3 linked regions of the Homo sapiens genome follow. The protein of the gene in region 3 purifies or fractionates together with the protein of the main gene of each other region. This does not show direct contact. Each region holds a gene or a part of one and is shown on either strand. Other genes may lie near its edges.

The links. The genes of interacting proteins can lie anywhere in the genome.
Region 1: the proteins of UBE2R2 (region 3) and TGFBRAP1 purify together in Homo sapiens (co-immunoprecipitation; one large-scale study listed by IntAct). This does not show direct contact.
Region 2: the proteins of UBE2R2 (region 3) and UBR7 fractionate together in Homo sapiens (co-fractionation; one large-scale study listed by BioGRID). This does not show direct contact.

The regions. Positions count from the first base shown.
Region 1 is NC_000002.12:105,319,736-105,323,235, reverse strand, and holds part of TGFBRAP1 (transforming growth factor-beta receptor-associated protein 1), read left to right. Parts: intron 1-3,500. UniProt on the Homo sapiens protein: Plays a role in the TGF-beta/activin signaling pathway. It associates with inactive heteromeric TGF-beta and activin receptor complexes, mainly through the type II receptor, and is released upon activation of signaling.
Region 2 is NC_000014.9:93,210,256-93,213,755, forward strand, and holds part of UBR7 (putative E3 ubiquitin-protein ligase UBR7), read left to right. Parts: intron 1-392; coding exon 393-453; intron 454-1,776; coding exon 1,777-1,872; intron 1,873-3,500. UniProt on the Homo sapiens protein: E3 ubiquitin-protein ligase which is a component of the N-end rule pathway. Recognizes and binds to proteins bearing specific N-terminal residues that are destabilizing according to the N-end rule, leading to their ubiquitination and subsequent degradation.
Region 3 is NC_000009.12:33,897,160-33,900,659, forward strand, and holds part of UBE2R2 (ubiquitin-conjugating enzyme E2 R2), read left to right. Parts: intron 1-3,014; coding exon 3,015-3,112; intron 3,113-3,500. UniProt on the Homo sapiens protein: E2 ubiquitin-conjugating enzyme that accepts ubiquitin from an E1 ubiquitin-activating protein, and catalyzes its covalent attachment to other proteins by an E3 ubiquitin-protein ligase complex.

The sequences.
Region 1 (3,500 bases), on a different chromosome or scaffold from region 3:
AGGCTCTCCCTCCTCATCCAGGCGTCACAAGAGCCACCATCACTGGGACCACAAGAAAACTGGCCTCCAATGCATGCTTCTGAGTCTTTCTCTCTTAAACTTCTCAGGACCAGCCTCAAAAAACATGGGGAATAAGGCAAGGTGTCCCACTGTGTTGCATACCACCCTTTTCCTTCACCTTCCTCCTCACCACCATGGTTTGCTTTTGGCTGAGTCCTCGGTGATTTAGCTTTCTCTCCTAATTATATGGCACCAGCATCCTGACTGGTTGATTGGGAGCTGTGAACGGCTGAAGTGTGCCAAGCTCTGTCTGCCCCCCATCCGTCTCAAAGGCTGTTAGGATCTATGGCAACTTTTGTCAGTTCACTTATAGGTTTGGTTTTTAGAGCTAATATATGATATACAGTCATGCATCAGTTAATGACTAGGTTATGGTCTGAGAAATCTCCCATGGGGCAATTTTGTCATCATATGAACATCATAGAGTGAATTACACAAACCTGGATGGTACAGTGTATTATACACCTGTATAGCTTCATACCCTAAGCTATATGGGTATGGCCTATTGTTCCTAGGGTGCAAACCTATACAGCATGCTACTGTCCTGAATCTCTAAGCACAAGAGAATCTTGTAACACCAAAGTATGTGTGTATCTGAACACATCTAAACACAGAAAAGGGATAGTAGAAATACTGTATAAAATACTAAAAAAAGGGTCCACCTGTATGGGGCACTTACTGTGAATGGAGCTCGCAGGACTGGAAGTTTCTCTGGGTGAGTCAGTGAGTAAGTGGCAAGTGAAAGTGAAGGCCTAAAACATTACTGTACAGTACCATAGACTTTGTAAATATTGTACACTTAGGCTACACTAAATTTATTCTAAAAATACTTCTCTTCAGTAATAAATGAGCTTACTGTAACTTTTTGACTTTATAAACTTCTTTAAAAGTTTTTCACTCTTTGTAATAACATGTAGCTGAAAACATGTTGTATAGCTGTACAAAAATATTTTCTTTATATGCTTATTCTATAAGTTTTTTCTTTCTTTTTTTTTCTTTAAACTTTTTGGTTAAAAATGAAGACACAAACACACACACATTAGCCTTGGCCTGCACAGGGTCAGGATCATCCTTATCCCTGTCATCCACCTCCACATCTTGTCCCACTGGAAGGTCTTCGGGGGCAGTAACATGTGTGGAGCTGTTGTCTGTGATAACAATTTCTTCTTCTGGAGTCCTCCTGAAGGACTGTTTTACAATTAACTTATTTTTTCCTGCATAAGTAGGTGTACGCTCTAAAATAATGATAAAAAGTGTAGTGGAGTAAATACATAAACCAGTAACATAGTCATTTATTATTATATCAAGTACTACATACTGTATGTAATTGAATGTGCTAGACTTTTCAACGACTGGCACTGCAGTAGGTTAGTGTACGCCAGCAACACCACACATGAGTGATGCATTTTGCTACAATGTTCCAACAGTTAGATTGTCACTAGGTGATAGGAATTGTTCAACTCCATTATAACCTTATGGGACCACTGTTGTAGATGCTGTCTGTTGTTAATGGAAATGTCATTATACAGCACGCCACTGTGTTCAGTTTTCCCCTGTGATGGACATTGCTATCTGTCTATGGCTTCATGGTCTTAGTAGATATGTTTATCCAGGTTAATTGAGAAACTGCTTCTCAGAGAAACATTTTTTTTTCTATAAAAGTTCTATATTAAAATGGCAAAATAGAAACTTGAAAAACATCATTGTAGGCCAGGCATGGTGGCTCACACCTGTAATCCCAGCACTTTGGAAGGCCGAGGTGGGCAGATCACCTGAGGTCAGGAGTTCGAGACCAGCCTGGCCAACACAGTGAAACCCCATCTTTACTAAAAATACAAAAAATTAGCCAGGCATGATGGCGGCTGCCTGTAATCACAGCTACTCAGGAGGCTGAGACAGGAGAAGCACTTGAACCTGGGAGGCAGAGGTTGCAGTGAGCCGAGACCGTGCCACTGCACTGCAGCCTGGGCAACAAAGCAAGAGACTCCATCTCAAAAAAAAAAAAAATAAATAAATAAATAAGTCATTGTATTTATACAAAAACTGTAAATTGTAGGAAGATGCAAAGAAAGAAAGATACTCACGCCTAAAGCCAGGATCCCTGCCATCAGCCAGTCAGAGGAAGTCCAGTGTGTGGGAATCTGTGCCGTCCCCCAGAGCCCATTCTGAGGCTGCCCTTGTCCACCAGACGTTGCTACTTTTCATATGGACTAGCGACAGATGAGAAGGAGGCAGTGTGTTTTCCTTTAGGGATTATTACGTTGTTAAATTCGATCCCACCACTGTAGTTAATGGTAACTATTTTCTGACTCATAGTGTTAATCCTTTGGAAAGGTATCTAGAGAGTAGTGTTTACTGAAATCCCTTTTGACAACTGCTTGGTTTGTGGAGTGCCTTGGACACTTACAGGCTCTTTGGAACTCAGCAGCAATTCCGAACTGATTGTAGCTTATACAATAAGAGACTGATATTATGGAACAATAAGAATAGGTTAATAGCTATAATTTTTCTTACTAAATAAAGGAGGAAAGGTTGGCTGAGGTTAAAATTTTAAGGGCTGTGCTTCTTAAGCTGAGTCTGGAGTTTATCTTTTGGGCAGGGAACTACCTTCTGGTATGTTATAAGGAGGATAATGACCTAGTGTTTCAGGTGTGTGGCCCACATTCCTGCCTCCTTTCTGCATTGCCTTCAGATCTGACCTGGCTTTGGTCCAAATGTTAGAATGACCACTTGATCTCTATTCATTTTTGATGGACTATCATAAAGAAAAAAAAAAAACTTCTTGCTGTAAAATGAGAAAATAACAAATCTTACTTGAGGTAGTGTGTCCTTTTTAAAATGCAGATACAGAATTAATTTTTAGCTTATTCATAGGACAGTGCCTTCTATTATAGGGCTGAGTTTTTGCGGTTCCTCCCCCAGGGTGATGAAGTTCTGGTGCACATATAGCTGCATAGGTTTCTGAAGAGTCTGTTTCATTTATAAGCTGTGAAGTAATTAGAAAATGTGAGGGTTTTTTGCAGACACGTAGGACACCAGGCCAAGCTTAAAGTTGGCTCTCAGGTGGACATTATTTGGTAGAGCAGATAACAAAGTGTCATTCTTTGATTCAAGAATAATTACTGGTAAAGAGCCCATTTTAATAAATGCCAGTTTGTCATAGCATTCTTTTTGGCAGAATATATTTATCTCTGTACCAGATTAGGAGTTTCCTATTGTGTGTGTGTGTGTATGTATGTGTGTATATAACATGTATGTATGTATGTATATAACAAATATATATATTTCAATATATAACAAATATATATTTCACTATATAACAAATATATACACACATACATATATGTATATATGCATTAAACACATATATACCTATATATGTTAAACATATATATTAAAATCTTATATATGTATTATGCTAATATTTATATAGTTAATGT
Region 2 (3,500 bases), on a different chromosome or scaffold from region 3:
TGTATTTTTAGTAGAGACGGTGTTTCACCGAGTTAGCCAGGATGGTCTCGATCTCCTGACCTCGTGATCCGCCCGCCTCAGCCTCCCAAAGTGCTGGGATTACAGGCGTGAGCCACCTCGCCCAGCACTAATGAAATTTAATGTAATTATTTTATATAATTGGAGAGAGTTGTTTCTAGAGCCTTTAAAAACATAATATGGTACAAACTCAAACCATTTATCTTTCCCTGCCATCATTTTACTTGTGTGTTTGTATGTGATATAAATATTTGCTTTTGTACATATTAATTTCCCGAATTGTGAAGTCTTACTATGTGCTTGAATGCTTGAAGAAATTTTAAATTGGATTTTGTAAAAAGAAAAATAAAATTGTTATTTCCTCCTTTTTTCAGAAATTTTCGTTGTGATTGTGGAAACAGCAAGTTTAAAAATTTGGAATGCAAATTACTTCCTGTAAGTAAGCACTGTAACTATAAATGCATTTAGAGCAGCTGAGGTTAATATTTGCCAGAGTGGGTAAAAAAACAAATACCTGTATTTTCCAAAAAAAGAAGTTCTTATGCTTATTCTTTGCAGATGGCCATTTCATTTTTTACTTTGTTAGAAAAACTATATAAACTGTTGAGAGCCTACAAGATAGATGGTAATTAATATGAAAGGTTTGGGGGAGAGATGTACTTGAAAGTAATTCAGGTTTAATTATATTGGTTGTACTTATTCTCTGAGGCTTTTAAATCAGCGGATATGACTTAAAAACAATAAATAGGGTCAAGAGATCGAGACCATCCTGGCCAACATGGTGAAACCCTGTCTCTACTAAAAATACAAAAATTAGCTGGGCATGGTGGCACCCAGTCATCTACTCGGTCAGCTACTTGGGAGGCTGAGGCAGGAGAATTGCTTGAACCCAGGAGGCGGAGGTTGCAGTGAGCCGAGATTGCGCCACTGCACTCCAGCTGGCAACAGAGCAAGACTCCATCTCAAAACAAACAAACAAAAACAATAAATAGGCCGGGCACGGTGGCTCACACCTGTAATCCTAGCACTTTGGGAGGCCGAGGCAGGTGGATCACTTGAGGTCAGGAGTTCAAAACCAGCTTGGCCATCATGGTGAAACCCCCCCGTACTAAAAATACAAAAAATTATCTGGGCATGGTGGTGCGTGCCTGTAATCCCAGCTACTTGGGAGGCTGAGGCAGGAGAATCGCTTGAACCCAGGAGGCGGAGGTTGCAGTTACCCGAGATTGTGCCACCGCACTCCAGCCTGGGCGACAGAGCGAGACTCCATCTCAAAAAAAAAAGAAAAAGAAAAACCAATAAATAAGGCTGGGCGTGGTGGCTCATACCTGTAATCCCAACACTTTGGGAGGCCTAGGTGGGAGAATGGCTTGAACCCAGACCAGCCTGGGCATCATAGTGAGACCCCATCTCTATCAAAAAGAAAAAAGAAGTACCTTGAAATTCCAGGCCAATATCAGTTCACATAGATTGATAATTAATATTTATGATTAACTTTTATCTCCATTTTATTGAATAGGTGTATTTAATTTCTCCTAATTACCACAAAAAAAAACAAAAAAAAATTATTTTTTCCCTGTGTCCTGAAAAAAGTATCCCTTTAGTGGTAGTGAGTTTTTTTTTTCCTACTTTGAAAATTAAAGATCAGCCTCTTGGGGGAAATAATGTGGAAATGTATTGAATGCATAAATTTTATAATGTGTGAAATTATAGTTAAAATTAGACCATATTATTATTGAAATCAATATTATATTTCAGGACAAAGCAAAGGTAAATTCTGGCAATAAGTACAATGACAACTTTTTTGGATTGTACTGCATTTGCAAGAGACCTTATCCTGATCCTGAAGACGAGGTAAGAGAATTGGAAGTTAAACCTGGGGGTGTGTCCCCTCTAGCCTTGATTCCTCAACTGCTTGTCATATCCGAGCCTCTGGCTCTTCAAGAGGCAGTGTGGGATGGTGAAAGGGCTCTAGATTTATCTTTTCTTATGAATCTGGGTTGGATCTATAATTGGTACACATCTCAACCATTCTTTTCATTTTTACATCATAAGAATGAAATATTGGAGAGGACTTTCCCAAAGCCAGAGCTTCTTCCCTTCCTCTCCTTCCCTGACTGCCTCCCCCAGTCCCCAAACACTTTCTAAGAAATGACCTTCAACTTCTTTTGTCTCTTTACGGAAAAAAATGGGGTATACAAACAGCATCCTCTTAAAAACGTCAATGAGAAGTATATGCAAAATTCAAAACGAGTTCTTCCTCACTTCTGCACCTCTTACCTCCCAGGCATAACCACTGTTAACACTTTTGGTGTGTATATTTTTAGTCCTTTTTCTGTGCACATAGAAGTGTTTGAGTGAATGTGTGTTTCAATGTGTAGTTTCCTTTCTATTAACAGAAGTGAAAATTCTGTACACTCACTTCTGCAGCTGGCTTTTCTCACCAGTATATCATAGACATTCTTTCATGTCAACAAAACACACTTACCCCCTTCTAACTGCTGCAGAGTATCCTATAATTTCATATGCCATAAGTTAGTCAACCTGATTGTTCTTCTACAGCAGAATGGCATTGTGTAATTTTTCAATATTATAAAGAAAGCTAGAGTGAACATCCTCATACAGTAATACAACTGAGTATACTCCAAGTATTTATGTAGAATGGATCGGTATAATTGACGGATCAAAGTGTATTTGTGGCATTTAAAATTGTGATTGGCTGGGCACTGTGGCTTATGCCTGTAGTCCTGGCTACGCGGGAGGCTGAGACACAAGAATCACTTGAACCCATGGGGCAGAGGTTGCAGTAAGCTGGGATTGCGGCACTGCACTCCAGCCTGGGTGACAGAGCGAGACCCTGTCTCAAAAAATAATAATCATAATAAATAATAAAATAAAATTGTGATCATATCTGCCAAAAAAGTTGTACCAGCAACAGTATATGATAGTGTTTTTTCCCCAACACTTTTGTCAACCTTGCATATTACCAGTTCTTGAAAATTTTGCCATTCTGATAAATGAAGAATAGTATCTTTTTTTTCATTTTTTTTTTCAGACGGAGTCTCGCTCTGTCACCCAGGCTGGAATGCAGTGGCGCGATCTCGGCTCACTGCAAGTTCCACCTCCCGGGTTCATGCCATTCTCCTGCCTCAGCCTCCTGAGTAGCTGGGACTACAGGTGCCCGCCACCACGCCCAGCTAATTTTTTGTAATTTTAGTAGAGTCAGGGTTTCACCGTGTTAGCCAGGATGGTCTCAATCTCCTGACCTCATGATCCGCCTGCCTCGGGCTCCCAAAGTGCTGGGATTACAGGCGTGAGCCACCGCGCCCAGCCAAAGAATAGTATCTTAAATTTTTTTTTCTTTCCCTGATGATAAGTGAGGTTATGCATCTTTTCATAAGTTCATTGGACATCCATAATAACCTTCTCTCTGAATTGTCCTTTCATATCCTCAGTCCATGTTTTGATTGGTTTGGGTTTTG
Region 3 (3,500 bases):
CTGAGTAGCTGGGACTACAGGCGTCTGCCACCACGCCCGGCTAATTTTTTGTATTTTTAGTAGAGACGGGGTTTCACCATGTTAGCCAGGATGGTCTCAATCTCCTGACCTCGTGATCCGCTGGCCTCGGCCTCCCAAAGTGCTGGGATTCAGAAAAACTCTTTTTTTTTTTTGGAGACAAGAGTTTCGCTTTTGTTGCCCAGGCTGGAGTACAATGGTGTGATCTCGGCTCACCGCAACCTCCGCCTCCCGGGTTCAAGTGATTCTCCTGTCTCAGCCTCCCGAGTAGCTGGGATTACAGGTGCGTGCCACCACGCCCGGCTAATTTTTGTATTTTTAGTAGAGATGGGGTTTCATCATATTGGTCAGGCTGGTCTCGAACTCCTGACCTCAAGTGATCTGCCTGCCTCGGCCTCCCAAAGTGCTGGGATTACAGGCGTGAGCCACTGCACCTGGCCAGAAAAACTCATTTCTACATTTCCCATAGGTTGTTTAAATTGTTATTATTAAAGGAAAGCTCATCTCAAAGCTTCCTCAACAACAAAGCCTTTTATCTTCCACCCCACCTCCCACGCATTCACTGCCCAAATATACCAAGTTTCTCTTTTCTTTTTTCTTTTTTTTTTTTTTTTTGAGATGGAGTTTTGGTCTTGTTGCCCAAGCTGGAGTGCAATGGCACAATCTCGGTTCACCACAACCTCCACCTCCCAGGTTCAAGTGATTCTCCTGCCTCAGCCTCTCGAGTAGCTAGGATTACAGGCATGCACCACCACGCCTGGCTAATTTTGTATTTTTAGTAGAGATGGGTTTTCTCCATGTTAGTCAGGCTGGTCTCGAACTCCTGACCTCAGGTGATCTGCCCGCCTTGGCTTCCCAAAGTGCTGAGGTTACAGGCGTGAGCCACCACGCCCGGCTCTCTTCTTTTTGTTTTTTGTTTTTGTTTTGAGATGGAGTCTCGCTCTGCCGCCCAGGCTGGAGTGCAGTGGCGTGATCTCAGCTCACTGTAACCTCTGCCTCCCGGGTTCAAGGGATTCTCCTGCCTCAGCCTCCTGAGTAGCTGCGATTACAGGTGCCACCACGCCCAGTTAATTTTTGTATTTTTAGTAGAGATGGGGTTTCATCATACTGGCCAGGCTGGTCTTAAACTCTTGACCTTGTGCTCTGCCTGCCTCAGCCTCCCAAAGTGCTGGGATTACAGATGTGAGCCACCATGCCTGGCCTCTCTCTTCTTTTATCTGTAGTAACTTTTTACATGCCTTATGGTATCTAACCATAAGGCAGTGTGTTAGAATATAATATTTTGTATTAATTTTATTTTAAAAATATTTTATATTGATAATGGTTACATATATATTCATATAGTTTCTATGTGTCTAAATTTGGGTTGTATATGTAAGATTTTTGCACTTTATATAGTTATACCTCCAGTTTTTTAAAAATATAAATCTTAAGTCGTGTGTGGTAGCACACCCTAGAGTCCCAGCTATGGGACTACTGAGGTGTGAGGATCACTTGAGGCCAGGAGTTAGTGGCTGCAGTGCACCATGGTTGTCTTATGCATAATCACTGCACTACAGCCTAGGTAACATAGTGAGACTCCCATCTCTAAAGACAGAAAGAAGTTAAATAAATAAATAAATCTTACCTTCCATGTTAGGCTAAGTCCAAGAGATAAGTCACTGTATTTTACCTAACTTTATCTTTTCTATTGAATTGTGTTCTGTATTGCACATGGTGGGCAATCCATATGTGTATGAATTAACCTAAATGTACTTGTGGATTAAGTTGTGTTAAGTTTATGAAGCAAAATATAATAGCCATAGTGGGAAGTCATTCTAACCATACCTTGAGGATGTTAACATTTGCTGCGAGGCATATTTTTGGTTTATATAAGTCATGGTTATTGACATAGCATCTATCTGAGTAGATATTAAGCAAGGTTAGATATTTTTTCTTCCTTTTTATGTACTCTAGGTACACAGATATATCTGAAAACAAAGGGATATATATTTGGCTGCTTCTAAGACAATTGAGTCTTGATTTATTATGTTTGTCTTTTTTTTTTTAAGATGGAGTCTCATTGTGTTGCCCAGGCCGGAGCACTATCTTGGCTCACTGCAACCTCCGCCTCCCGGGTTCAAGCGATTCTCCTGCCTCAGCCTCCTGAGTAGCTGGGATTACAGGCGCGTGCCACCACGCCCGGCTAATTTTTGTCTTTTGTTTTTGTTTTTTTGAGACGGAGTCTCCCTCTGTTGCCCAGGATGGAGTGCATTGGCGCGATCTTGGCTCCCTGCAACCCCCACCTCCCAGGTTCAAGCGATTCTCCTGCCCCAGCCTCCTGAGTAGCTGGGATTACAGGGGAGTGCTACCACGCCCGGCTAATTTTTGTATTTTTAGTAGAGACGGGGTTTCACCATGTTGTTCAGGCTGGTCTCGAACTCCTGACCTTGTGATCTGCCCACCTTGGTCTCCCAAAGTGCTGGGATTACAGGCGTGAGCCACCGCGCCCAGCCAATTTTTGTATTTTTGGTAGAGATGGGGTTTCGCCATGCTGGTCTCAAACTCCTGACCTCAGGTGGTCCACCCGCCTTGGCCTCCCAAGTGCTAGGATTACAGGCGTGAGACACCGCGCCCAGCCCCAGTCAATTTTTTATCAGGATTGTACTATAGGAATAGTAAGTCTTCTCACTAGAAAATATACCTTGGAGATTGGTCGAAATAAATATTATATTTTAATGTTCCTAAGTAAACATAGGGATCGTTTGTTTCATCAGGATTGTTCTATAGGAATAGTAAGTCTTCTCACTAGAAAATATACCTTGGAGATTGGTCAAAATAAATACTTTTAAAATGCTTAATTATTATTTATCTTTGATGTTGAACATAAAAAGCAGAATTGTTTTCTCCTTTGATGAAGAAACAGTTTCTAGGAATAAAGGAAACTTTAGAACCGATGTCCCTTTTTGTACATCACTTTTTGAGTATTTACTGAATGTAATGTTTGTGTCTTGTAGAATGGAGATGTATGCATTTCGATTCTTCATCCGCCTGTAGATGACCCACAGAGTGGAGAACTGCCTTCTGAAAGGTGGAATCCTACTCAGAATGTGAGGTAAGGAGGAATCTGGTTTTGGAGTTATTCTTAATCTCCTTATTGTCTTTGCTCCTAGTAAAATAAAATTATGTATTGTCTTTTAACATGTAAAAAATCATCTTTCTTATATTCAGTTTCTTTGTCTTTAGCTAGAGCTTTAAGAAATATGTATGCGTCATTTTGAAGAGCTGTATTTACTAAACAATAATGTATATGATTCTCATTTCCCTATGTTCACTTAGGAATAGATTTTCAAGCCTGAATCCCTACTCTTAACTTATCCTAGTTCTACTCTGGTTCTTTATTACCACCTAACATTAGTGTCATTCATTGGTTGCAGTTAATAAACAATGTTAATTCATTATAAGTAACTGAAGTCCATACGCTTTCACATTTCCTTTGTTTT